Linked DNA regions of Homo sapiens: all the other regions are reported to be linked to region 3. Evidence: microRNA targets listed by miRTarBase, many of them from high-throughput screens and not tested one by one. Region 3 holds a microRNA gene; each other region holds the end of a gene's coding sequence.

The links. Region 3 holds the annotated microRNA hsa-miR-4290 (UGCCCUCCUUUCUUCCCUC, at 1,462-1,480, shown strand). A microRNA usually pairs through its seed, bases 2 to 8, with sites in the 3' UTR of a target mRNA and lowers its output. Matches are read on the target gene's strand: a 7mer-m8 pairs with bases 2 to 8, a 7mer-A1 pairs with bases 2 to 7 and ends in A, and an 8mer does both.
Region 1: the mRNA of KCNK12 is a reported target of hsa-miR-4290. Seed matches in the 3' UTR shown: 7mer-A1 at 2,015-2,021.
Region 2: the mRNA of CNOT6L is a reported target of hsa-miR-4290. The part of its 3' UTR that is shown has no 7-base or 8-base seed match.
Region 4: miRTarBase lists SEPTIN5 as a target of hsa-miR-4290. Seed matches in the 3' UTR shown: 7mer-m8 at 950-956.
Region 5: miRTarBase lists HPR as a target of hsa-miR-4290. Seed matches in the 3' UTR shown: 7mer-A1 at 817-823.
Region 6: the mRNA of GPR45 is a reported target of hsa-miR-4290. Seed matches in the 3' UTR shown: 8mer at 3,036-3,043.

The regions. Positions count from the first base shown.
Region 1 is chr2:47,517,490-47,521,489 of GRCh38, reverse strand. It overlaps KCNK12 (potassium two pore domain channel subfamily K member 12), which reads left to right. Exons shown (of 2, transcript NM_022055.2): 2 at 1-4,000. The coding sequence ends at 583. It also overlaps a transcript of MSH2 not described here. Among named protein-coding and RNA genes, the nearest start is that of MSH2-OT1, 8.0 kb to the left of the region's middle. RefSeq lists a silencer at 282-551.
Region 2 is chr4:77,716,600-77,720,703 of GRCh38, forward strand. It overlaps CNOT6L (CCR4-NOT transcription complex subunit 6 like), which reads right to left. Exons shown (of 12, transcript NM_144571.3): 12 at 1-4,044. The coding sequence ends at 3,832. Among named protein-coding and RNA genes, the nearest start is that of CNOT6L, 100 kb to the right of the region's middle.
Region 3 is chr9:90,020,827-90,024,930 of GRCh38, reverse strand. It overlaps MIR4290 (microRNA 4290), which reads left to right and starts at 1,396; the gene lies at 1,396-1,490. MIR4290HG (MIR4290 host gene) reads left to right here. Exons shown (of 4, transcript NR_038882.1): 3 at 1-368; 4 at 3,386-4,104. RefSeq lists an enhancer at 1-44.
Region 4 is chr22:19,722,135-19,726,238 of GRCh38, forward strand. It overlaps SEPTIN5 (septin 5), which reads left to right. Exons shown (of 12, transcript NM_002688.6): 11 at 103-205; 12 at 294-1,185. The coding sequence ends at 350. It overlaps GP1BB (glycoprotein Ib platelet subunit beta), which reads left to right and starts at 1,405. Exons shown (of 2, transcript NM_000407.5): 1 at 1,405-1,445; 2 at 1,720-2,637. The coding sequence starts at 1,436. The coding sequence ends at 2,330. SEPT5-GP1BB (SEPT5-GP1BB readthrough) reads left to right here. Exons shown (of 12, transcript NR_037611.1): 10 at 103-205; 11 at 294-1,445; 12 at 1,720-2,640. RefSeq lists enhancers at 730-1,508, 1,509-2,286, 3,882-4,104.
Region 5 is chr16:72,076,316-72,080,419 of GRCh38, forward strand. It overlaps HPR (haptoglobin-related protein), which reads left to right. Exons shown (of 5, transcript NM_020995.4): 5 at 1-931. The coding sequence ends at 766. Among named protein-coding and RNA genes, the nearest start is that of HPR, 15 kb to the left of the region's middle.
Region 6 is chr2:105,242,211-105,246,314 of GRCh38, reverse strand. It overlaps GPR45 (G protein-coupled receptor 45), which reads right to left. Exons shown (of 1, transcript NM_007227.3): 1 at 2,848-4,104. The coding sequence ends at 3,338. Among named protein-coding and RNA genes, the nearest start is that of GPR45, 2.5 kb to the right of the region's middle.

The sequences.
Region 1 (4,000 bases), not on the chromosome of region 3:
CGTGGAGGGCTGGGACTACGTGGACTCGCTCTACTTCTGCTTCGTCACCTTCAGCACCATCGGCTTCGGGGACCTGGTGAGCAGCCAGCACGCCGCCTACCGGAACCAGGGGCTCTACCGCCTGGGCAACTTCCTCTTCATCCTGCTCGGCGTGTGCTGCATTTACTCGCTCTTCAACGTCATCTCCATCCTCATCAAGCAGGTGCTCAACTGGATGCTGCGCAAGCTGAGCTGCCGCTGCTGCGCGCGCTGCTGCCCGGCTCCTGGCGCGCCCCTGGCCCGGCGCAATGCCATCACCCCAGGCTCCCGGCTGCGCCGCCGCCTGGCCGCGCTCGGTGCCGACCCCGCGGCCCGCGACAGCGACGCCGAGGGCCGCCGCCTCTCGGGCGAGCTCATCTCCATGCGCGACCTCACGGCCTCCAACAAGGTGTCGCTGGCGCTGCTGCAGAAGCAGCTGTCGGAGACGGCCAACGGCTACCCGCGCAGCGTGTGCGTCAACACGCGCCAGAACGGCTTCTCGGGCGGCGTGGGCGCGCTGGGCATCATGAACAACCGGCTGGCCGAGACCAGCGCCTCCAGGTAGACCGCCCGTCCGCCCGCGCCGGGGACCCTCTCCAGGCCGCGGGGCCGCCGGGCGTGGTTTGCTTCTCTCAGTCACTGCTGGCGCTTTCTTAATCTTTATCCAATAAAATGAAACAAAAAAAATTTTTTTAAAGAAATACTATTTGGCCAGGCCTGATGTTATCAAGGGCAGGTTTTGGGGACGCCTGTGTTCCTTGTGAGTCCCCTCTTGGAGAACCGTGGCCCCCAGCAGATTCTCCTTCAGGGAGAGAAAACGTGGCCCCCCAGGCCCACACCCAGGGCATACCGCAGCGAGGAGGGTTTTGCAGACTGGCACTAAACCCCGTCCCCATGCACAGAAGCAGCCGGCAACCCCAAAGCATATGGTGCAACTTTTCGTGGCTCTGAATTACCTCCTCAGCATTTAGAATCCTGGCCCAGCCTAGCAGCTTCCTTCTGGTCGTCAGAAGTGATATAGTCACAGTTTTGACAGGTGGGGGTTGGGACAGCCATATGTTGCCTCCCGATGTATATATATAGAACAGCCACTACACACAGAGAATGGTGTAGTATTATGCAATGAGATGAAACATAGCACCAACTTGCGGACTGTGGCATTTCCCCCAGATTTGGAAATTGCAGTGGTGAGGGGCTTAGCTGGCCTTTCTCAGCTCAGAGTTAGTCCATTTAGCACAGAGCACAGGGCAGCTACTTCTAATGGTGGGCGGTCCAGGGCACCTGTGAGGAGGGGAGCGGTGAGGCTGCAGGAGCCCTGCTGGGCTTTTAGCTGGCTGATCTCCAGGCTCGGATCGGCAGATCTTGAATCCCCCAACCGTCCTTTCTTTCACAAGCTCATCCACAGCAGTGCTTTTCAATATTAACCAGGAATATCTGAGTCTTCTCAGACAAGATATTTATTTGTTGGTGTGGATTTTTTTTTTCTTAACTACTGTTGATCAGTTCAACTTTTCCCCCTTTAAGAGATCATGGGGTTGCCGGGCGCAGCCCTCCAGCTTCTCCTCCTCCTCCTCTGAAGGAGGCACCTCTGCCAGCTGCGTCCTTGGGAACCAGGGCCTGCAGCACCAGGAACCCAAAAGAAGCCATCTTGCAAATGTCAGGGTATTTGGCTCCAGAGGCCATGATGTGTTTGGGGTCAGGAAAGATAGAATCCCTTTCTAAATATTGTTTATCAAGAGGATTTGTCTTCTCCATGCACAGCCTATTGGAGGCAGAGGAAGGCAGGAGGGAGGTAGCTGGTGAAACTGGTGGATGGAAGTAATGTTAGGATTACAGTTTTGCTCTCGGGCTGAGGGACAGATTCTCCCAGACTTGCCTTCTGCAGCATAGGGGGTCCCTGACCTGGAGGAAGGCCAGATACCCAGGCTTCATTGAAAGGATAGTGGTCTGGGGGTGTAAACGAACACTCTCTCTGCCCATTTTTCTCATATATGATGAGGGCAAGGACAGGTGCCAGAGTTTATACAGGCACGGCGTGACCCACCAGTATGCACAGCTTCTGATAGGAAGTCTTAGAAAAGCACCGCCTCACCGCCTCCAGCTGGAGCCATGCTGTGAAATCTCTCTCCCTGGCAAATGTGCGTGGAACACACACACACACAAACATGCACGCATGCGCTCACGCACCCAGCATTAGAGTCAAACTTGAATGTCAAACTCTTCTTTCCCCTTCTAGTTCATGGCAGGAAGGGAAAGCTTACCTGAGATCTCAGTGACTCTCCAGCTATTTTGGGTAATTTCTGATTTGAGTTGGGATTGGTTTTTAAACACAGGCCCTAATCTGGGGTGAAGCCAGTGAAGCAGCGCTGGCCAGGAGAGACGTCAGTCTTGCTAAATCCTGAAGGTGGGTTCCTGTGAAAACCATGCTTTCAGGATTCACTGTGACTGTCAGGCCAGCCCAGTGAGTGCCCCCCATCCAACCCATGGTTGCGGTCACAGTGAAGGGATTGCCCACGCAGGGGCGCACGTGTTCTCTAGGGCAGGGCCCTCTGACAGGACCTGGAAATAAAATCCACATTTATCCCTTTAAAAAAGGGAACGATTAAAAGGCATCCAATTAGAGGTGTTACCTAGGCAACAGGAAATAACTTGGGGATCAGAGCCATCCAGAGAGGGAAGAAGAGATCCCCATGATAGAGGCATCTAGACAGTGAGGACTTGATCTGCGGGCAAAATAACAGCCTACCCACAGGAAGTGAGCCCCAGCAACAGTACAGCAGCCTAAAACCCAGGCATCAAGACTGTGTGAGCTAGACAGGTCTAAAGAAACCTCCAGGCAATCCCCCGCCCAGCGTGCAGGACTACACAGAATCGTGGTCTCCATGGGAGGAACCAGGACCCACCTCCAGAGAAGAAAAACTCAAAATGTTTCTTGGCAGTCTTCTCTGTTGGCGGTGCTTCCTAGACTCTATCCTAAGTTGCTTATGCTGCAGCCTCAGCTGTTTTTACTTGTTTTCCTATGCTTTGGTTTTGGAAAGAGGCAATTGGAGGCAGCTTGAGCAATCTTCTAAAGGAATGGTAAGCATGGTTTCAAGGGGCAGGAAAATGAGACCCTTCCTCTTCCCACCTCCCAACTTCCCAGAGAAACGCCAGTCCTCCAAGGTACAATGGCAGCTCAGGATCCAGTGGCACATGTGTATTTTTGCCTATGTTCCCCTGTCCCCATCCCCCAATCCAGTCTCAGTCACACTGCCATGATACATCACACCATCATCCTTCATCTCAGGCCAAAGGGCTCAGCGCCCCAGACGACAGGGACTGCTTCCCTGAAGCAGGGATGTGGTTCTCCCATCATTTCAGGAACAGTGACATTGATAGGGATGCCTTTCTTTGGTGCAGGTTCTTCTGAACCTCAGGCCAAGAAAGAGCTCCATTCCCTCAGATGCTGTGGCCTCTCTCACTGTCTTGGGGGTCTCCAGTTTGCACACCACTGGTAGCTCACTGTAGCCTACAATTTCCTCATGCTCCAGGATTTGCTTCCTAACCTTAGGCCTGGACTTACCCATCATGCCGGTGCTGTGGGGCTCCCTTAAAGTTTGAATGAACTCCAAGAGGCCCTCACCATATGACTGTGGCCACAGAGAATCCAGAGTCTTGGCTAGCAGCCTTCTCAGAGCTGAGGAGAAAGGTAAAGAAGCCACCCTGGGTGTCCTAGCTTGCTAAAGCCAGGTGGTCAGGCCTTTGTGTCCTCTGAATGAAGCAGTGCCTCCAGGCCTGGAGAAGGCATCAGAAGGCTTAGGCAATCTCAGGCTCTCATTTTGTGGAAAATGCCAGACAGCCCTGGGCATTTGCACAGCATCATGCATATATGTATATATATATACACACACACATACACACCAGCCTTACAAAGAGCTACTAACCCTTTTCCCCAAGGAAAAGTCTCAGTCTGGGCCACTTTAAGAAGAAAGATTTCCCATTT
Region 2 (4,104 bases), not on the chromosome of region 3:
CATGTTCCAGTTTTAATGTGCCACATCCTCAATTCTAATATAATCTACCATAGAATCAAGTGATATGAGCCTTAGATATCTTTCAACTTTCTCCCTTGCTTCTCTGTGATTTAATATATAACTTTAAGACACCAAAAAAATAGGGGCAAATAAGAAACAGCTTTTATATTTTTGCCAACTACACTAAAACACAGTGGCTTCTTTAATACATTCACACAGGATGCTAATTAGTAAAATTAAATACCTGCCTATGAATATCAGAAAAGTAATTTGAAAAGAAAGAGCTTGGAACAAGGCAAATGGGAGGGGAGGAAAAGCTGGTCTCAGAACCCATTGTGCCATACCTGACTTCAACATGTGATATTCAAACGAATGTTCACACGCCTTACATCAAAGAAATGAAACAAAAATATTCAGCTATGTTATTATACAAAATTTTTTTTACATAAAACATCATAAATCTGGAACAGATTTACTATATCTGAATTCTAAAAAGTTGCCTATAGAATGGTGCTGGGATTCTGTTCTCTGCTTGCTTTTAGGCAGTGCTGTTGCTTAAAAGTTGACACCAGGCACAATATTTTAAAACAAAATCAACGAGCAAGGAGCAGTAGGTGGATCTGAGCCTTTCCCAGATGTCAGGCCTGAGGATGCTGCAATATTCCCCATCAAAATGTGTAAAGCTATGAGGTGGATACTGATGCCTGAGAGAGTGGGTGACTTGACATGCACTTGTATGACTGTAATAATGGCAAACAGTACAGTTTTCTCTTCCTCAAACAATACTGTTTTAGTAAATTTTAAGAACATTCCGGTTCTTAGACAAATATCGAAATAATATTTAACAGTTTTAAAAAAACATGTATCACATTCTAAAAATGCCCAGATTTTCTTTTATCTTCTGATTAAAATATGCAGCAGCCCAATGGCATAAAGCTTAACTCATTCTGATAACTAGAAAGTATATGAGCATATATATTTTACTTTCATTGAATATATATATATATATGTCATTCACCTCTTCCTTTTGGCTTCTCACTGCCAAAGTTCCAAATGGCATGCGGTTTAACAAGACAATGCTGAGGAAAGCAGCATTTCTGATCATCTGAATTGGCAGCTCAAAACAGATACCACTCCTTTTACAAAGGGAACAAAGGGTGAAGGGTATGTGAAATTTGGGCAGTGGGCTAAAGGGAAACCGTGCACATGAAATTTGGGTTACCATGCCCCAAGTGTGTACCACCCAAAACATAACACAATTACCTACTTCAACAGAGCTACTACCAACATTTACTAAAACCACATTAAAAATACACAGGATAATGAATGGTTTGAAAGAGCGCATTTGAAGCAGAGAGAACCCAATTACACACCTTCCTGCAACAGAGTGCCTCGATCATACACAAAATAAACTTAAGCTGTTTACAATGTTTCCCATTTTTTTTTATTTTTTCCCTCTACATTTAACTATTAAAAAAGTTTTTTATTAATAAATGGGCTCCTCTGTGGTTCATATACAATCATAAGTGAACTTTAAATTCCATTTTATACAAACATCTCAAAAAATATTGGGAGTGAAGTATGGTAGGAAATATTGCTCACATTGCTAATTAACATGCGTATATGAAAGGAGGAAAATGTTTTGTTAGTGCATATACCTCCAGAGCAGAAAACCCACCCAAAACAAAAGATCTAAAATAAAACATACAGTAGCTGATTACAAAAAAAGGTAATGTCCACAAAATTAAGTTTTTCATGCTATTCTACTTTCCAGTACTATGCTTCAGGTAATCAATTTGCATGGCTAGATGTTGGATACTTGAGGTATATAAGAAGGGAAACCTGCATGTTGAGGAAAATCTGTCATCTTAAGGGTTGTTTCTTTTTGTTTGTTTATCCTGGTACTTTAACATTTTTAAAAGATATTTTATTTACATCAAAATTCACTGAACTACAATGACATTCCAATTATAATAGATGACAAACAACGCCTCTATCACTAGGCACTTTTAAAAGGGAGTTCAGGCTTTACAGAACCCTTCTGATGCAATCCCATGTATGATATGACATCATCCCACCACCCTCGTCCCACTAAAATTACCCTCTGGGGAAATATTACCTTATATAGCCTGATTAATTTACTATGGAAGAAATTAGCATAAAATGACCAAAGTAAATGCATCATTTAAGACTAATAAAACAGCCGAAGATGTCAGGTTTGAAAGAGGAGACAAATTGTGTATATTTAAAACTAATTAAATAATTTAAATTTGACCTATACTTTATATATTAGTGAGACACAAATATAGGCTATTGTCTTTTAAAATTTCATTCACATAATGGAAAATTTCTTGTTTATTAAAAATATCACATTTTGAGACTAGAAACAGTAAAGTGCATGAAAAGTTTAAAATATAAATTTCAGAAAACTCTTATAGCAGCAAAAAAGCAGAATAAAGAAAAACTTAAAAACACAGACACAACCTTTTCCTGTTACTGTGCCATAATTAACATCAAGTAGCCAACCAATTTTTCCCCAGAAAACAGTATTCTGTTCACTGCCTCTTGAGTCACAGATTTTCAACTGGCCCCTCCTAGGCAAAAAAAAGATTCCAACATACCTAAAGGCATCAACAATTGGGAATAAACCAGTAGCTTCTTAATTCAACCCTGACAGACAACTGAAACAAAGATTAAAAGCATATGATGGCCATTTGGCAGCTAGAGTCAGGAAAATGACCCAACGTTTTCAACTACTGCCCCAAATTTGTTCTCTCTCCCAAATCCTTTGCACTGTCATCTCAAGAAACCAACAGCCACATAATCTATGTTGGAAACACATAAAATATCTGTATGATTTTCCCCATCTGAAACTTTGATCAAGGCCTTTTTATTCAGCAGACTTTTTTCTTCTTTTAACATTTGACTATAATGGCAAAAATGACATAGGTCATATAACATCTGTTTTCCTGGCACAACCAGACAGAAGGTTGAATTGGAATAAGGAAAAATTCATTCCGTGGGCATCCTAAACATACCACATTCTATTTTCAAGGTATGTGGCAATACAGATTACTTACTTTTTCTCTATAAATAAACTTGAGAGACAGGCTTAGAATTAATACTTCCAATAAGGTTATATATAAAGGACAAAAAAACCAAAGTGATTCCTCAAAAAAACTCCAAACCAGCATTTGGCCAACAAATTGTCATGTGGTGTTACATGCTGGATTATAAAAGTATACTGTGCAACCATCTTTAATTTTTCAAATTTTCTTACCATGTATAGAGGCTATATCATAGTTTATGGACTGAACAAGTAAATTTAAGTACTCTGTTAATGTGCAAATGACTTTGGAATCCAAAAGTCAGTTATAAAGGAAAAATTCAAGGTTTTCCCTGGAAGGCATATCATCATTCAGTTTAAAATACTGTATTTATAGTTTTTAAAAATTGCCTTTTATAAAATGGTTGGCTCACTGAAACCATTCAAAAGAAAGTATTTGTTTTGGAAAAACAAATACACTGTTATTGGGCCTCAAATTGGTAATTTATCAATTTTGAATGCTGGCTGTTAATACAATATAAAGAAGGTCCAATTTAAAAACATGTTAAATTAAAATTTTGTAAAGAGAGTAATACTTTGGTTCCAGCCCTACTGCCAAATGATACCAATATGCACAAAAATGTACAAAGTCTTACAGCAAACACATAATGAAAGAAACCTGAAGAAGCAGCTTAAGGATGGCCATACTTCACTCCTACATACTTTGATTTACAACTGTACAGGTCCATAGCAACAGATCCCCGTCTTGGCGGGGCAGTACTCCACTACCTCCGATTAGGCAAGTGAACACCATTGACAAGAGGCAGGAGTGGAGGGTGGAGTTCAAGTTGTGTTAACAGTGAGAAGTGGTCTGAAGGGATGTGAGGGTGTGGACACCCAGTGATGTTGTTCTCAACCAGCCATTGAGGATCTAAAGGCCCCAGGACACCAAGCACGTTCATATGAGTCTTGGAATAGAAAATGTAGTCAATCACGCCCTGGAAAGAGATTGGGAATAGGAAAAAAAGAAAAATTCAAGATATATAAAGAACAATCCA
Region 3 (4,104 bases):
TGTTTGCCCATCTGTGTCCTTGTCAGCCTTTGAGAATTGGATCTGGCAGCCCCTCCTCAGGAAGCCCATGAGAGCCTCCGCCCCATACTCACACAGACCCTGAGCTAGGTGGCCCCTGCCTGTGTCCCTCAGCTCCCAGCCCAGCTTCCATGCAGCTTTAGCACAGTTTACCAGCACCATCAAGACCCCTCTGGGAGGACAGAGAGCTCTGGGAGGACAGAGAGCTCTGAAGGACAGAACACGCATGCCTTTCTGGTTGTTCCTCTGAAGCCTAGCACAACACTGACACGTGAGAAATACTGGCTGAATAAAAGGTGGAAGTGAAAAAGAACAACACTGACACGTGAGAAATACTGGCTGAATAAAAGGTGGAAGTGAAAAAGAAAGACAAGAAAGGAGGATAGAAGGAAGCAGAGTGGTTGGGAGGAAGGGAGGGGGGAATAGCTTTTCAAGGAAAAATGATGGATGGTATGAGAATGAAGGGGAGATGACTATTTCCTACAGAAAATTTCTATTGTCATTAATAATGACTTTTGGCATCACTCTTTTGTTTCTCATTTTCTAGACTCCACATTTAAGGCCTATCTAGTGTAAATCGAGGGGAGAAAAGGTACCAGTTCAATTGCCAAGCAAACTTAACATATAAGTTAGTCGCAGATCTGGACTGGAACACAGATCTTTCTCTCATTTTTGAAGCACTCAGGGTTGGGACTTTGACTATCAAACTTGTCTTCTTAAATAAGGTCATGCTTACCTGGGTTTCTTCCAAATCATCACACCCTCACTCAAACTGTGTTTAGAAAAGAAAGGGGAAATTAGCTGCTTGTTGCTCAAATATTAAGAGCTCCTTCCTGCAGATTGACGCTACTTTGTAGATCAGGCCACGCCTGGCAAAATTCTTGGCAGTGTTGTGTCTACACAGGAGAACACCCTCCTAATGGGCCGTGGGTTTACATTTCCTGTAGAGAGATGTGACTGCTATGCATGATACCCTGAAAAAGTGATGCTGTAGGTCTAGCTACCTGAACAATGCAGACTGCGTCCCTTCGCAGCTGTGGAGTGGGGAGTACTGGTCCCACACTGAGGACTGAAGGATTCTCTGCTTTCTTGCTTGAACTGCAAAGGATGCCTTGACTTTGGGCTGCCAGGAGGGGGACGGTGTGCTGGCTTTCACCTCGCCAATTGGCAAAGTTGGCTTGGCCAACCTGATGGGTCAAACACACCTGGGGTCAAAACAGAATCTCTAGCTCTACCCTCAGCCCTCAGTCCCATAGCCACATGAACAGTCTGAGCAGTGTATTTGCTGGTGTGAACTGAAATAGGAGGACAAAGAAAGAGGAAACGAGGGAGGGATTTGAGCAGAGAGGAACACAGCCCTTGGCCCCATGGTGGGCTGCCACCAAGAAGGTGAAGGGAGGGTCAGTCCCAATCTGAATCCCACCAAAATAGGTGGTAGAGGGTTGCCCTCCTTTCTTCCCTCACCTCTGACCCCGCTCTTCGAAGCCCTGGTCCTGTCAAGGCACCTATCCCATGGCCCATGTGGCAGTAGCTTGTTCCCAGCGACCACTCAGCTTTCCACTGAATGGAAGCAGAGAGTGAGTCCAGGTATCACTTACTCAAGGCAGAATCTTCCAGAACCTTCTAGACTCAAATGAGTGAAGTGGTTAAAGAGAGAAGAGAAATCACTGGGAGCAAGGTCTCTAGATGGGGTTTTCTTCCCCTGTCCCCACAAGTCCCATGCCATAAGTGACCATTTTATAAACTTGCTGCTGGGACAGCTTCATTCCAAAGATATTGTGGTTGGGCTGTGAACCCAGGAAGTTTACATGATCAACTTTTACCCAAAGGATTGTCACATGACCCCCAGTGCTGGGATGACACAGAAATACAATCTGTCAAATTTATATGAATCCAAAGGGAAATGAAACATGTAAAACTGAGACTGCAGCCCAGTTTTTTGTTATGGCTTCAACAAAGCAATGCCACATCAGCCTGTCTGAGCATAGCACATTGTCTTCATGTTGATGTGCAAGATTCCCTACAGACTGCAGACCAGGGCTCAGCAAGAACATGGAAGGAAAATGTCCCACAGCAAAAGGAGAAACAAATACAGATTAGAGTGTTTAACAGGGCCAGGCACACAGCAAGTCATCACTGGATGGCAAATCTAAACTCAGCAAGTCATTACTGCATGGTGAATCTAAGTTCTTACAGTTATCACTAGTACTGCAGACACCTAGTGGAGACGTATGCTTACTCATGCAGTGTGTGAGTAAGCTCAGGCTGCCAGCACAAAATACCATGGACTGGGTGGCGTAGACACCGCAATGTATCTCCCACAGTTCTAGAGGCTGGACATCCAAGATCAAGGTGCCAGCAAGGTAGATCTCATTCTGAGGTTTCTGCCCTTGGCTTGTAGGTGGCCACAGCCTCCCTGCATGCTCATGTGATCTCTTCTTTGTGTATGGAGGAAGAGGTGGGGGAAGCCTTCTGGTGTCTCTTACAAGGACACTAATCCTATTGGATCAGGGCCTCACCCTTATAACCTCATTTAACCTTATTTACTTCTGTAAAGGCCCTGCATCCAAATACAGCCACACTGGGTGTTCAAGCTTCCACATATGAATTTTGGGAGGATACAACATTCAGTCTATGAGATGAAGGCACAGTCCGGTAGCACTACTCTGAAGTTATCTGATGCTGTGCATCTTTATCTACATGGTGACACTTAATTCACAATTTATCCCCAGGACTCAGGCCAGCTAGGCAGGCATTATTAAAGAAAAGTCTGTCTGGTTCAGTAAAATCTTAGGATAGAATTCTACTAAGCCTATCAATTGGCTTTTGATTCCAGAACCATCTTTGTAAAAGGTTGTAGGGAAAATTTGTAAAAGGTTGTAGGGAAAAATATGTGGGGGAAAAACATTTAAATGAAATCATGGTCTCCTTTGGAAATCCAGGTTACAGAACATGGTGTGCAGGCATGAGGGTCACCAGGTCTTGCTGGATTGCAGATGCTCATGGTGAAGACAGGAGTTTACAGGGGCAGTGGGTCTGCCCACATGTCCCAGCACTGAGCCGTTGCTGACTCTCAGAACCTGGTCATCCAGGTGCTGTGTCCCCTACTCGTTTACTGTAACTGAGAAATTTTCCAGGCAAGGTGGAGCTGAAGCCTAAATATATCTTCAAGCCCTCATGCCTGTCTGCTTGCAAATATTTCACCCTTCCTTCTTGGCTATTTCCATCAATGTTGTTTTGTTCTGAGAGTGAATGCCCAGAGAGAGACATTCTGTACTTAACCGGTTTGTGTTTTGTGATTTTTGTGTTGGTACTAGCTCTTTCAGCACAGTGAAATTTTAAACAAGTAACTCTCTCTGCTTACCAGGCACTGTGCATTCCCTGCCCATGAGGAAGGAAGCAGCTTATTCCATTTTCACCCCAGCAGAACCCCTGCATGCAGGTTTAGGTCAACACTAGCTGCCAGCAGGATGGAGACCCAGCAGCATGCGGCACACGGGAGTCTCGCCGCGGGTCCTTGACAGAAGAGTAACGAGACTTTTCTTGAAATAGTGTCCTGAGTTGAGATCTGAGAAGAACCTGTTATGCATCCTAGAACACAGTGCATTTGCAAGTCATAAGATGTTAGCACCGATTATGGAGCCTCGTGTGTTCTTAGGGGCTATTTCCGTGACCTCGTCGGGGGTTCAATGAGCAGCTTCAACAGAAAACTGGATTTCCTTTTCCTCCAAGGCTGTCTTATTTCCAGATTACTCTGGACCTAATTTTAATCGTGCACACCTACCATGGCAGGCTGTTTTCCTGTCCTCCCAATGATCTCCATACAATCTCACTGCTGGGTAGCACCTCCATTCCCTTGCTTACCTAAGCCATCAAAACCTGCAACAACTCACAAAACCACAAAAAGCAACAGAAAATATCAGAAGATAATCAAATGAATCAAGACCTCCAGAAAACTGTGCATAATTCAGTTTTCATTTCATTTAATGATAATGTCCACAGTTAATCAGGCATTCCTTATCATTTGGATCTACATGTTGAATAAACACAACATCCCTAGACCTTTGAGGGTTTTCTAAATAATCT
Region 4 (4,104 bases), not on the chromosome of region 3:
GGGCAGGGCCTCAGCAGTGGCGGGGATGGGCCAGGCATCGCCAGCCCACGCTGAGCCTCCCGGTGGCGCCGCCCCGCCCATCCTCCCCCCCGCCCCGCGCAGCAAACTGACCCAGGACAGCCGCATGGAGAGCCCCATCCCGATCCTGCCGCTGCCCACCCCGGACGCCGAGACTGAGAAGCTTATCAGGATGAAGGATGAGGAAGTATGTGGGGCGGCGGGGGCGGCGGAGGCGGGCGTCAGGGATGCTCCTCCGCGGTGCTGCTCACCCGCCGGGTTGTCTCCGCCCGCAGCTGAGGCGCATGCAGGAGATGCTGCAGAGGATGAAGCAGCAGATGCAGGACCAGTGACGCTCGCCGCGGACACACCGTCCGTCTCCGGGACGCCCTCGCACCCCTGGACACCAGACCGGACTGTTCCCGACCCGGAGACGCGGGGCCACAGCCCCCAGCTGACCCTAATTTATTCTCAGCACCACCCCCTCCCAGGTCATTGTGTCTGTTTCCGAGGGGCCTGGACCGTAGCCCCCGCCCAGCTGGCCCTCTCTGACCTTGGGGGATCAGGAGCGAAGTTGGGCGGGACTTCAGAGATCCGCCTCCCTTGCCCTTCCCCCGCCCCCGGACGGTCACAGCACCCAAACCGCAGGCCCTGCTCTGGCAGGCAGGCAAAGCTAGGCAGAAGAGGATTCCCAGGATCCTGGGTCTGTTCCCTGCCCCAGTGCTGCAGAACGGACTTGGGAGCCCTCCTTTGCCTGCTCCCGCGGGTCACCCAGCGAGTGCTGAGACCCCATTTTCTGTCGAGGCGGGCCGAGTCTTCCCTTATCCCCAGACGCCTAGCGGGCAGGGTTGGGCTGAATCAAATGGGAGCCCTCCAGACATAAGGAGGCCAGAGGCTGCAAGGAGCGGGGTCGTGACCGCTTACACCCCTTCTCCACAGCCCGGCCCGACCTGGAGGGCCCCCGGGGCACTGGGCGGTGAGCCACCTCCTGGCAACTCTCGGTGCCGTCCCCTGCCCTCGCTCGAGGCCTCTTCTCCCCAGCACCGCTGTGGTGTGCCGGGATCCTGAGCCTAGGCCTCCCGATGTTCCCACCCGCATGATCCCTTCCCGCCACACGATGCTCCGTTTTCTTCCGTTGTGAATGCCGCGTCCTGTCCTGGTGACAGGAGAACAATGTTGGTGAACGTCGCAGCGGGTGTCCGAGTGCTCCGTGTGCCCCTGAGAGCGGGTGGGAGCGGAAGCCTGAGCGGCCTGCGGCCTCCGGCGATAGTGTGCTATCTGCCGCTGCAGCGCGCGTCCGCGCGGCCTCTGGGCTATTTCTGGCCAGGCCGCAGCACTGTGGTCGGTGCGGGCGTGGCAGGGGCGGGGCGGCCTTATCGCTCGGCTCTCCCGCCTACGCCTCCCGCTGCAGAGTAAGCCGGGCTGCCGTCTTCTCGCCATGGGCTCCGGTGAGTCTGGAGTCCGGTCGGGCCCCCGGCTGCTCCCTAGGCCGACCCGGGTTGAGAGGAGCTCTGGTCGTTTGGCTGCAGCTGGGAGAGACTTGGGTCAGACTTAGAGGGGACTTCCAGCCGGCGTGCGGGGTGGTCAGGGTGGAGAGGCTGGCGGGCTACCGGGACGCCGGGCATCAGGGGCTGGATGGAGCCGGGCCGGCAGTCTGGGTACTCAGAGATGTCGCCCAGGTGCCCGCCGACCGCTCGGCTTACTGCGGCGCTTCCCTTGCAGGGCCGCGCGGGGCGCTGAGCTTACTGCTCCTGCTGCTGGCCCCGCCGAGCCGCCCGGCCGCAGGTTGCCCGGCGCCCTGTAGCTGCGCGGGGACGCTCGTGGACTGCGGGCGCCGCGGGCTGACTTGGGCCTCGCTGCCGACCGCCTTCCCTGTCGACACAACCGAGCTGGTGCTGACCGGCAACAACCTGACGGCGCTGCCGCCGGGGCTGCTGGACGCGCTGCCCGCGCTGCGCACCGCACACCTGGGCGCCAACCCCTGGCGCTGCGACTGCCGCCTTGTGCCGCTGCGCGCCTGGCTGGCCGGCCGCCCCGAGCGTGCGCCCTACCGCGACCTGCGTTGCGTGGCGCCCCCAGCGCTGCGCGGCCGCCTGCTGCCCTATCTGGCCGAGGACGAGCTGCGCGCCGCTTGCGCTCCCGGCCCGCTCTGCTGGGGGGCGCTGGCGGCGCAGCTTGCGCTGCTGGGCCTTGGGCTGCTGCACGCGTTGCTGCTGGTGCTGCTGCTGTGCCGCCTGCGGAGGCTGCGGGCCCGGGCCCGCGCTCGCGCCGCAGCCCGGCTGTCGCTGACCGACCCGCTGGTGGCCGAGCGAGCCGGAACCGACGAGTCCTGAGGAGAGAACCGGTGCGTCCTGAGGAGAGAACCGGCGCTGGGCAACACGGGCCTGCAAACTCGACAGGACCCTGCCCGAGGGGCCCTCGCGCCAACCTGGACCGGTCCCCGCCTCCTCCGCTGCCCAATCTCTCAGACCCACCCCACCTGCAGGCCCAGACCACGTGGGACAGAACTCCTGCCCACCCTACCCCGAGGGAGGCGAACCCGCACTTCCAGGCTTGGGAGGACCATGGGGCACAATGCGGTCCAGACCCTGCTGCGTCTCCCTTCCAAACTCTGGTGCTGAATAAACCCTTCTGATCTGGTCTTCTCTGCACGACTGACCTGGAAATTCCCCTCGCCAAACTCAGGAAAAGGCCCCAGGAGGCGGTTCAAGGGGACACAAACACATCCTCACATGCCCACCCTAACCTCAGGGGCAGACAGGAGTCAGTGGGTGACCTCTCCCCTTCCAGACACACTCCCAAAAGGCCACATGGGAAGGCATGAGAGAGATGCTAAGTGATAACGTGGGGGCCAGTGAGGACGTTGTGGGGACACTGAGGACCCTGTGGGGGCAGTGAGGATGCTGTGGGGATGCTGTGGGGACAGTAAGGACACTGGGGGCAGTGAGGACGCTGTGGACACTGCGGACGCTGTGGGGACAATGACGCTGTGGACAGTGAGGACGCTGTGGGGGCGGTGAGGACACTGTGGAGTGAGGACACTGGGGGCAGTGAGGACGCTGTGGACAGTGAGGGCGCTGTGGGGGCGGTGAGGACGCTGTAGGGGCGGTGAGGACGCTGTGGGGGCGGTGAAGGCGCTGTGGGGATGGTGAGGACGCTATCCGGGGCGGTGAGGACGCTGTGGACGGTGAGAACGCTGTGGGGACACTGAGGATGCTGTGAGGACGCTGTGGGGGCAGTGAGGACGCTGTGGACCGTGAGGACGCTGTGGGGATGGCGAAGACTCTGTGGGGGCGGTGAGGACTCTGTGGACGGTGAGGACGCTGTTGGGGCAGTGAGGACGCTGTGGACCGTGAGGACTCTGTGGGGGCGGTGAGGACTCTGTGGACGCGGTGAGGACGCTGTGGGGGCGGTGAGGACGCTGTGGACAGTGAGGAGGCTGTGGAGACAATGGGGACGCTGTAGACAGGACGCTGTGGAGGCGGTGAGGGCGCTGTGGGGGCGGTGAGGACGCTGTGGACACTGACGACGCTGGAGGTAACAATGAGGACATTGGGGACAATGAGTACACTGTGGGGGCGGTGAGAACGCTGTGGACACTGAGGACGCTGTGGGGGCGGTGAGGGCGCTGTGGACGCGGTGAGGACGCTGTGGGGGCGGTGAGGACGCTGTGGGGACCGTGAGGACGCTGTCGGGGCGGTGAGGACGCTGTGGACGCGGTGAGGACGCTGTGGGGACGGTGAGGACGCTGTGGGGACCGTGAGGACGCTGTCGGGGCCGTGAGGACGCTGTGGACGCGGCGAGGGAGCTGTCAGGGCGGTGAGGACGCTGTGGACGCGGTGAGGACGCTGTGGACGCGGCGAGGGAGCTGTCGGGGCGGTGAGGACGCTGTGGACGCGGTGAGGGCGCTGTGGGGACGGTGAGGACGCTGTGGACGCTGTCGGGGCAGTGAGGACGCTGCGGACGTTGAGGACGCTGTGGGGGCGATGAGGACGCTGTCGGGGCGGTGAGGACGCTGTCGGGGCGGTGAGGACGCTGTGGACGCGGTGAGGACGCTGTGGGGACGGTGAGGACGCTGTGGGGACCGTGAGGACGCTGTCGGGGCCG
Region 5 (4,104 bases), not on the chromosome of region 3:
CAAGAATCCGGCAAACCCAGTGCAGCGGATCCTGGGTGGACACCTGGATGCCAAAGGCAGCTTTCCCTGGCAGGCTAAGATGGTTTCCCACCATAATCTCACCACAGGGGCCACGCTGATCAATGAACAATGGCTGCTGACCACGGCTAAAAATCTCTTCCTGAACCATTCAGAAAATGCAACAGCGAAAGACATTGCCCCTACTTTAACACTCTATGTGGGGAAAAAGCAGCTTGTAGAGATTGAGAAGGTGGTTCTACACCCTAACTACCACCAGGTAGATATTGGGCTCATCAAACTCAAACAGAAGGTGCTTGTTAATGAGAGAGTGATGCCCATCTGCCTACCTTCAAAGAATTATGCAGAAGTAGGGCGTGTGGGTTACGTGTCTGGCTGGGGACAAAGTGACAACTTTAAACTTACTGACCATCTGAAGTATGTCATGCTGCCTGTGGCTGACCAATACGATTGCATAACGCATTATGAAGGCAGCACATGCCCCAAATGGAAGGCACCGAAGAGCCCTGTAGGGGTGCAGCCCATACTGAACGAACACACCTTCTGTGTCGGCATGTCTAAGTACCAGGAAGACACCTGCTATGGCGATGCGGGCAGTGCCTTTGCCGTTCACGACCTGGAGGAGGACACCTGGTACGCGGCTGGGATCCTAAGCTTTGATAAGAGCTGTGCTGTGGCTGAGTATGGTGTGTATGTGAAGGTGACTTCCATCCAGCACTGGGTTCAGAAGACCATAGCTGAGAACTAATGCAAGGCTGGCCGGAAGCCCTTGCCTGAAAGCAAGATTTCAGCCTGGAAGAGGGCAAAGTGGACGGGAGTGGACAGGAGTGGATGCGATAAGATGTGGTTTGAAGCTGATGGGTGCCAGCCCTGCATTGCTGAGTCAATCAATAAAGAGCTTTCTTTTGACCCATTTCTGTGTTGTGTTCAGTCTTGAGTCTTTTTTATTTGCTCCTTTATGGTCCAGGGTAGTCAGAAGGTATAGAGTCTACTGGGAGTATGGCAGAAAACACCCTAAACCCACTGGAAATCCCGAAGGTGATACAAACTCTTCCACCTTAGGGAATCATGCTCACTGATTGAGTGCCTATTGAATGCTAGGTCCCAGAAAGTTAACTGTTGTCCTTGTTTTACAGACAAGGAAACAGAGACTCAGAGATGGTAAGTGAGTTGCTTAAGGTTACATAGCTATGAAACAGGGAAGCAGAACTTTGAACCCAGGTCTGTTTGATACAAACTCAGAGGTCCTTTCACTGCATGCTGTTGCCTCTTTAAAGCGAATTAGGAGAAAGGGCATGGGCCTGGTGAGGAAGAGGCTAGCTCAAAATGGGATGGGGAAAAAGTGTTTTAACACAGACAGTACTTCAGAGTTTGGGATCTAACCTACCAGCACTCCAGAAAACAAAAGATGATGATGTAAAGGCAGGATCTCTGGACTTGCTGAGTCCAAATCATGGCTTGGCCCAAACATTTGCTAAGTAATTTAGGCTTCCTGGCCATTAGTTCCTGGTCTCTTCCATGAAGGACTTGAGCCAGGGTAACGTCCCTATCAGCAATAAGCTTCTGGGACTCTGTAAAGAGTGGGGAGGTAGAGTCCCTGCCTCAGTAGAAGCTGCTTTTCCTACTTGGAACAAACCCACCCTTCACCAGGAATCAAAAGCAAGCTGTCTGAGCCTCCTCTCCTGATGGCAGGTCATGCTATTAAGGGTCTCCCAGAAGAAAGCTTCTGGAGCTCTGAGAAACAGAAGCTCTTCTAACAGAACTTTTTCTTGCTATAAGCTTTCAATACCACCAATCACCAATGTGCCTTCTTCTCATGCGAAAATACGGCCCCTCCTTTGCAGGGTGTAAAATGACACTGATGTCACTCTCTCTCACCAGGGTCTGGCCATCTCTGTGAAGCTCTCCTCACAGGCACCCTGCAGATTCATCAATAAACTTCAACAGGTTAGCGCTAGTAGGCCAATAAGACCTATATTCTAGAACCTGTGAAAGAGATAATAGCCAGAAACTGGCAAACACCAGTCAAACTCTTTAAAAAAATGCCTCTTAGAACACAGTCACTTACACATTTTCCTAGATCTCTTCAGCACCAAGTTTCTTGGAAGAACAAGGCACTCTGCAGTTTTCTTAAAGAATTGTCTGATTGTATTAAGTGGCTTCTGGTAAAACAACAGTAAGAGAAAAGTTCTGGCATTCTCTTGATCACTCATCTTCTCTGCCTTCCTCCCCAGCACCACCTCCTGGCCTCAGCCTGTGGGCTTCTGCAAAGTCAGGTATCAGGACTAATTAGCTAGCATCAAATTCCTGTTAATTCCAGAAGCAGGGACAAACCTGTTGGGGAGGGACTTAATGACAAAATTAGGTATAGGTCTATACGTTAATCAAGGAAAATTCTCTACTTCCTTAAACTTACTTACCACCCTAGAGGAGAGCCAAATCCACTCTGATGACGTTTGGTCATAGGAAGGAAATTGGGGAAAATTACAAGTTTCTCCAATCCATGTAAAATTAAGAAATCCTGGGGAAGTTGTAAAGAGAAAACAGTACCCTATTCCCTTGAAAGGCAGAATAGGTTTATAACTTATAATCGAAGGTCTCCTTCAGGAAGGACTTCTTGAACCCCATATGTCCTCTTACAACACTCCAATATTGCCTGTAAAAAAGTCGGATGGGTCATAGCGGCTACTGCGAGACCTTCGAGCCATTAACCAAATAGTCCAGACCACCCACCCTGTCATTCCTAACCCTTACACCATTATCAGCAAGATCCCTCATGACTGCCAGTGGTTCACAGTAATAGACCTCAATGATGACTTCTGGGCTTGCCCCTTAGCTGTGGATAGCTGGGACATATTTGCTTTTGAATGGGAAGACCCTCATTCCAGTTGGAAGCAATAGTAGTGATGGACAGTTCTACCCCAAGGGTTTACAGACTCTCCAAACCTATTAGTCAAAGTTTGGAACAAGTCCTAGAGAATTTCCCTCTTTCATCATCCTTATGTCTACTCCAATATGTGGATGACCTGCTCATTTCCAGAGGCACCAAAGACCAAGTAACCGCAATTTTAATTAGCTTTCTAAATTTCCTAAGGGAACAATGGTTACGGGTCTCAAAAAGTAAACTCCAGCTTGTAGAACCTGAGGTAAAACACATGGGGCACTTAATAAGCAAAGGTAAGCCGAAGATAGGGCCCGAACAAATGGAAGGGATCATATCCCTGCCACTGCCTGAGACAAAACAAGAACTTAGAAAATTCTTCAGGCTAGCTGGAAATTATTGCCTGTGGATTGACTCTTATGCCTTAAAAACAAAACCTCTATATCTAAAACTTACCCAAGAAGGGCCTGACCCCCTTCTTTGGACCCCACAAGAAGTCCAGCAAGTTGAGGAACTAAAACATCTACTTATAACTGCCCCTGTCTTAGCTCTGCCATCCTTAGAACAGCCATTTCACTTTTTTGTTAATATAAGCAATGGGGCAGCTATAGGAGTACTCACTCAAAAGCATGGGGCCATTGCCAGCCCACAGCCTTTCTGTCAAACATTCTTGACGTGGTAACCTGTGGGTGGCCCGAATGTATCCAATCTACAGCAGCAACTGTTTTATTGACAGAGGAAAGTAGAAAAATAACCTTTGGGGGAAGTCTCATCCTAAGCACACCCCATCAGGTTAAAACCATTCTTAGCCAAAAAGCAGGGAGATGGCTTACAGATTCAAGAATCCTAAAATATGAAGCTATCCTATTAGAAAAAGGTGATTTAACCCTAACCACTGACAATGTGCTCAACCCCGCCACCTTCCTTTTTTTTTTTTTTTTTGAGATGGAGTTTCACTCTTATTGCCCATGCTAGAGTGCAATGGCACAATCTCGGCTCACCGCAACCTTTGCCTCCTGGGTTCAAGCAATTCTCCTGCCTCAGCCTACCAAGTAGCTGGGATTACAGGCATGCCACCATGCCTGGCTAATTTTTTTGTATTTTTAGTAGAGATGGGGTTTCTCCATGTTGGTCAGGCTGGTCTTGAACTCCTGTCCTCAGGTGATCTGCCTGCCTTGGCCTCCCAAAGTGTTGGGATTACAGGC
Region 6 (4,104 bases), not on the chromosome of region 3:
CAGGGTTTGGGTGAACCATAGGACTAGAGAGAAGATGCAAAATAATAATAATAATAATAAATCAATGGGTTGGGCACGGTGGCTCACACCTGTAATCCCAGCACTTTGGGAGGCCGAGGCAGGCAAATCACCTGAGGTCAGGAGGTCAATATGGTGAAACCCCATCTCTACTAAAAATACAAAAATTAGCCAGGTTTGGTGGCACAGCCCTGTAATCCCAGCTACTCAGGAGGCTGAAGCAGAAGAATCGCTTGAACCCAGGAGGCGGAGGTTGCAATGAGCCAAGATCACACCACTACACTCCAGCCTGGGTGACAGAGTGAGACTGCATCTCAAAAAAATAAAACAATCAAGCAGTGCTGATCCTGCGAGTCTCAGGGAAGGAGACCAGAACCAGATATCTTGGTATCTTAGGAAATCAACGTTCGTTAAAGGTTCAAGTAAGGCCAGATAGGATTATGAAAGTGGCACACTGCAAGTCAGAGAAGACTAACTGGCTGGAGTGATTTAGCAGCATCCTAATAAAACCAAAACAAAACACCTGGGCACCCAGCTGTGACCCATGTTATTGCAACAGTCTCCCAGTTGTCATCTTATCTTTAGTCTTTCCAGCTTTGCTACTAACTTTCAGGCTCTAGACTTCCTGAAGTCTTTTGTCTTATTCAGGCATCACTATGGCCTGAATATTGGTGTCTCCAAAGCTCATGTGTTGGAAACTAATACTCAATGTGATAGTATTAAGAGATGGGGCCTTTGGGAGGTGAATGAGATTGGTGCCCCTGAAAAGAGGCTTGAGGGAGTGCCCCTTCCCTTTCTGCCATGCGAGGACACAGCAACAAGGCGTCACCTAAGAAGCAGAGCAGGAACCCTCACCAGACACTGAATCTACCTAAACCTTTATCCTGGACTTCCCAGCATCCAGAACTGGAAGAAATAAGTTTCTGTTGTTTATAAATTACCCAATCTAACACATTTTGTTACAGCAGTCTGAACAAACTGATATAGGAGTATTGGGTATTGGATCCTGGGCTTAATATGTATGGTCTTGGTGCAAATTTTGGCAAGAACTTAGGCTTATACACCGAAAGAGCAATAATACTTTATTTAAAATATATACAAAATTATTACTTTGAAACATATATATTACTGTCCAACATACATCATATAACACTGATTGATGTAAATTTTGGTACCTTCATTTATTCAGTTGTGATTTCCCTTTTGTTCAAGGCTCCTGAAGAAAATTATCTGAAATGCCCACCAGAGGGGAGGTGCCCATGGGCTTGGTCCCCTTGGTGACTTGGCTGTGCTGTTGGGCACTACTGAGGCCCTAGAGCCCTGCTCCATGGAGCTGAAGGCAAATCCCCACCTTGCTGGGGGACCTGGGGACACAGAATTGATGGAACCCACCTCCGTCGGTCACACATCAATTGCTCATCTTCTCCCTCTCTCTCCATCTGGGTATAAACAGGGAGGGAGGTGAGGGGGAACAAGTGTCAGTTATCTTCTTAACCCTCCTCTGGGCTGAAGAGGAGGGTTAAGAGAAATGATGTTTTCCCTTTCACCCCCCTTTCTTCTCTGCCCATGTTACCACTACTGCGGGAAGAAAGTATGAGAAGGAGGAGCTGGCTCTTAATGCAGTTTAGAAAGAAACGGGAAGTGAAGCAAAAATGGGGCTTCTGTGCTCTTAGGCTGAATTTGAGTTACCATGATCCTGAGATAAATCAGACAACTGCTTTTGGGCATGGCCTATGATGCCTCATTCATCACTATCTCCCGCACAGTGCCTTACACCTAGTAGGCACTTAATGCATGCTCTTTGCATGGATGAATAAATGAATGCAGGGGATCTGATGACTACAGACAGAAAACACACATTTCAGAATCAGAGTGTTTGAGAGATGAAAGGGGACATTGGAAATCATCTAGATCTGCTTCCTCATTTGGCATATGGGGAAACTGAGGCCCACAGAAATGAGAAACGATCAAGGTCAAATGACTAGTTCCTGATAGAGTCAGACCTGGAATCAGATTTTCTAAATCTCTCCTTAAATTTCCCACCCTCTTCAGATCTGGAACAATAAAGAGAGCTCAGTGGGCTCAGTGCTATGCCCTGGACTCAGGACCCTCATATGCCAGTGTGGGGACCCCTGGTGGTGGCCGAATAGAGCACAAGCAGAGAAGCCCCCTTTGGGCAACTTCACTTCTGGGATCTGGTCCCAGTAGGTAAACAGGATGGCAGCAGTGGATCTGAATGAGGTAGGAGGAACACAGAGACCAGTGGGGACCCCGAGAATTGGGCTCGTTGGTGTGGCACCTGCAGCGGGTCCAGTGCTGAAGTGGATTTGGTGGGTTGAAGGGCTCTGGAGCTCCAGGGTGTCCAAAGGAAATGTGTAAACTAAGCCCAGCCTGCTCACTGCTGACACTGAAAGCAGGTCACTACAGATGCTTGCTCAGCGGGTGAGCTATAGCACACTGGATATGGATGGGAGGAAAACGAAGGGAGGCAGGGAGAGGGGTGGAGGAAAGAGGGAAGGGCCAAGGGGCTCTCCAGCAGACAGGGAGGCCTAGTGGCCTCAGGGTGCAGGGACGGGGTGGGCCCAGCAGGTGGGGGGCGCTGGGGACATGCAGGAGTTCCCGGATGTGCTTCTCACTTCAGCTGGGCTGCCCAGGACCTTCTCTGGGCTTCAAGCCTCTGAGGCCTCCCATGCGTCATTGCAGGGAGCTCAAAGCACAGAGGCTCACTCTGCTTCCCCGTGTGATTTTGGTTTCTTTCTAGAAAAGATACTTAGGCATGGGAAGAAATGCACATCTGATCAACATAAAGAACCTCATGTGAGTCCCCACACACCACAAACATCAATAGCTGAAGAACCCTGGTGTCAAACAAAATGAATGAACACCCAGGAGCTCACACCTACTGGGGTTTCTCAGGGTTTCTCTTGAGCAGGTGCAGAGAGGGCTCGCAGGGCAGGTTGAAGCTCTTGTGACTGACCAGTCCTCCTGCCCCACACTCAACCAGCTTCATTCCCTGTTGCCCTCCTCCTCCCTTTCTGCCCAACTTCTGCACTCCCCAGCCCACTCCATTTTTGACTTAATGACGTTGCAGTTCCCATCAGCCCCATATTTGGCTCTCTGCAAAGAGAAACAAAAATAATTCATCGTGCCAAAATTTGAAATTTGGGAGCTGCAGCTCATCTGATTACAAATGAGTACCTTTGTGCTTAAATTGCCACCACAAAGTGCAGACTATGACCAACATGCCAGGGAACAGAGCAGGACAGATCCACCCTGGGACTGGGGCTCAGCTGCCCCTTCTCTGTGGCCCCCTGACCCCCTAAACCGCAGACTGGTTTTCATTGCACACGTAGACTGTGCTTGGCTGGATTCTCCTTCGGATCCGCTCAGGCACTTTGGGGAGGATTTGGAAGGTCTGGGGCAGCAACTCTATGCAGGCCTCGCGGAATTTTTTGATTCTCCAGCAGTAGACGATGGGGTTGAAGACGGACTTGAGGTAACTGAGCCACAGGACGCAGGTGCTGGTGGCGTAGAAGGAGGAACCGCAGTAAAAGCGCTGGCTAAACACAGACAGGAGGCTGTAGACGGAGTGGGGCAGCCAGCAGAGGGAGAAGCCCACGAAGAGGATCAGGATGGTGGTGAAGGCCTTGGTCTTGAAGCTCAAGTCCACGCTGACCTGTTGCTGCCGCTGCAGGCGCCGCAGGCCCGCCCTGGTGAGCTGCCGCAGGTCCAGGCTGTCCGACTGGTTGTGCACGCGCACGGCGTTCTTGCGGACCGTGTTGAGGATGCACATGTAGGCGCACAGCATGACGCCAAAGGGCGCGAAGAACACGGCCACCACCAAGGTGACCACGTAGGCGCGGTCAGCGGGGAGCTCCGTGTAGCCCAGCACGCACTGTGGGGCCCGCGCCGGCACCTCCACCAGCGTCCAGCCCGTGAGCGAGGGCCCCGCGATGCAGAAGGACAGCACCCAGGAGACCGCGATGATCACCTTGGCCCTGCGCGGGTTCAGCTTGTCCTGGCGCTGGACGATGATGAGGAAGCGGTCCACGCTGATGATGAGCAGGATGGCCACGCCCTCCAGGA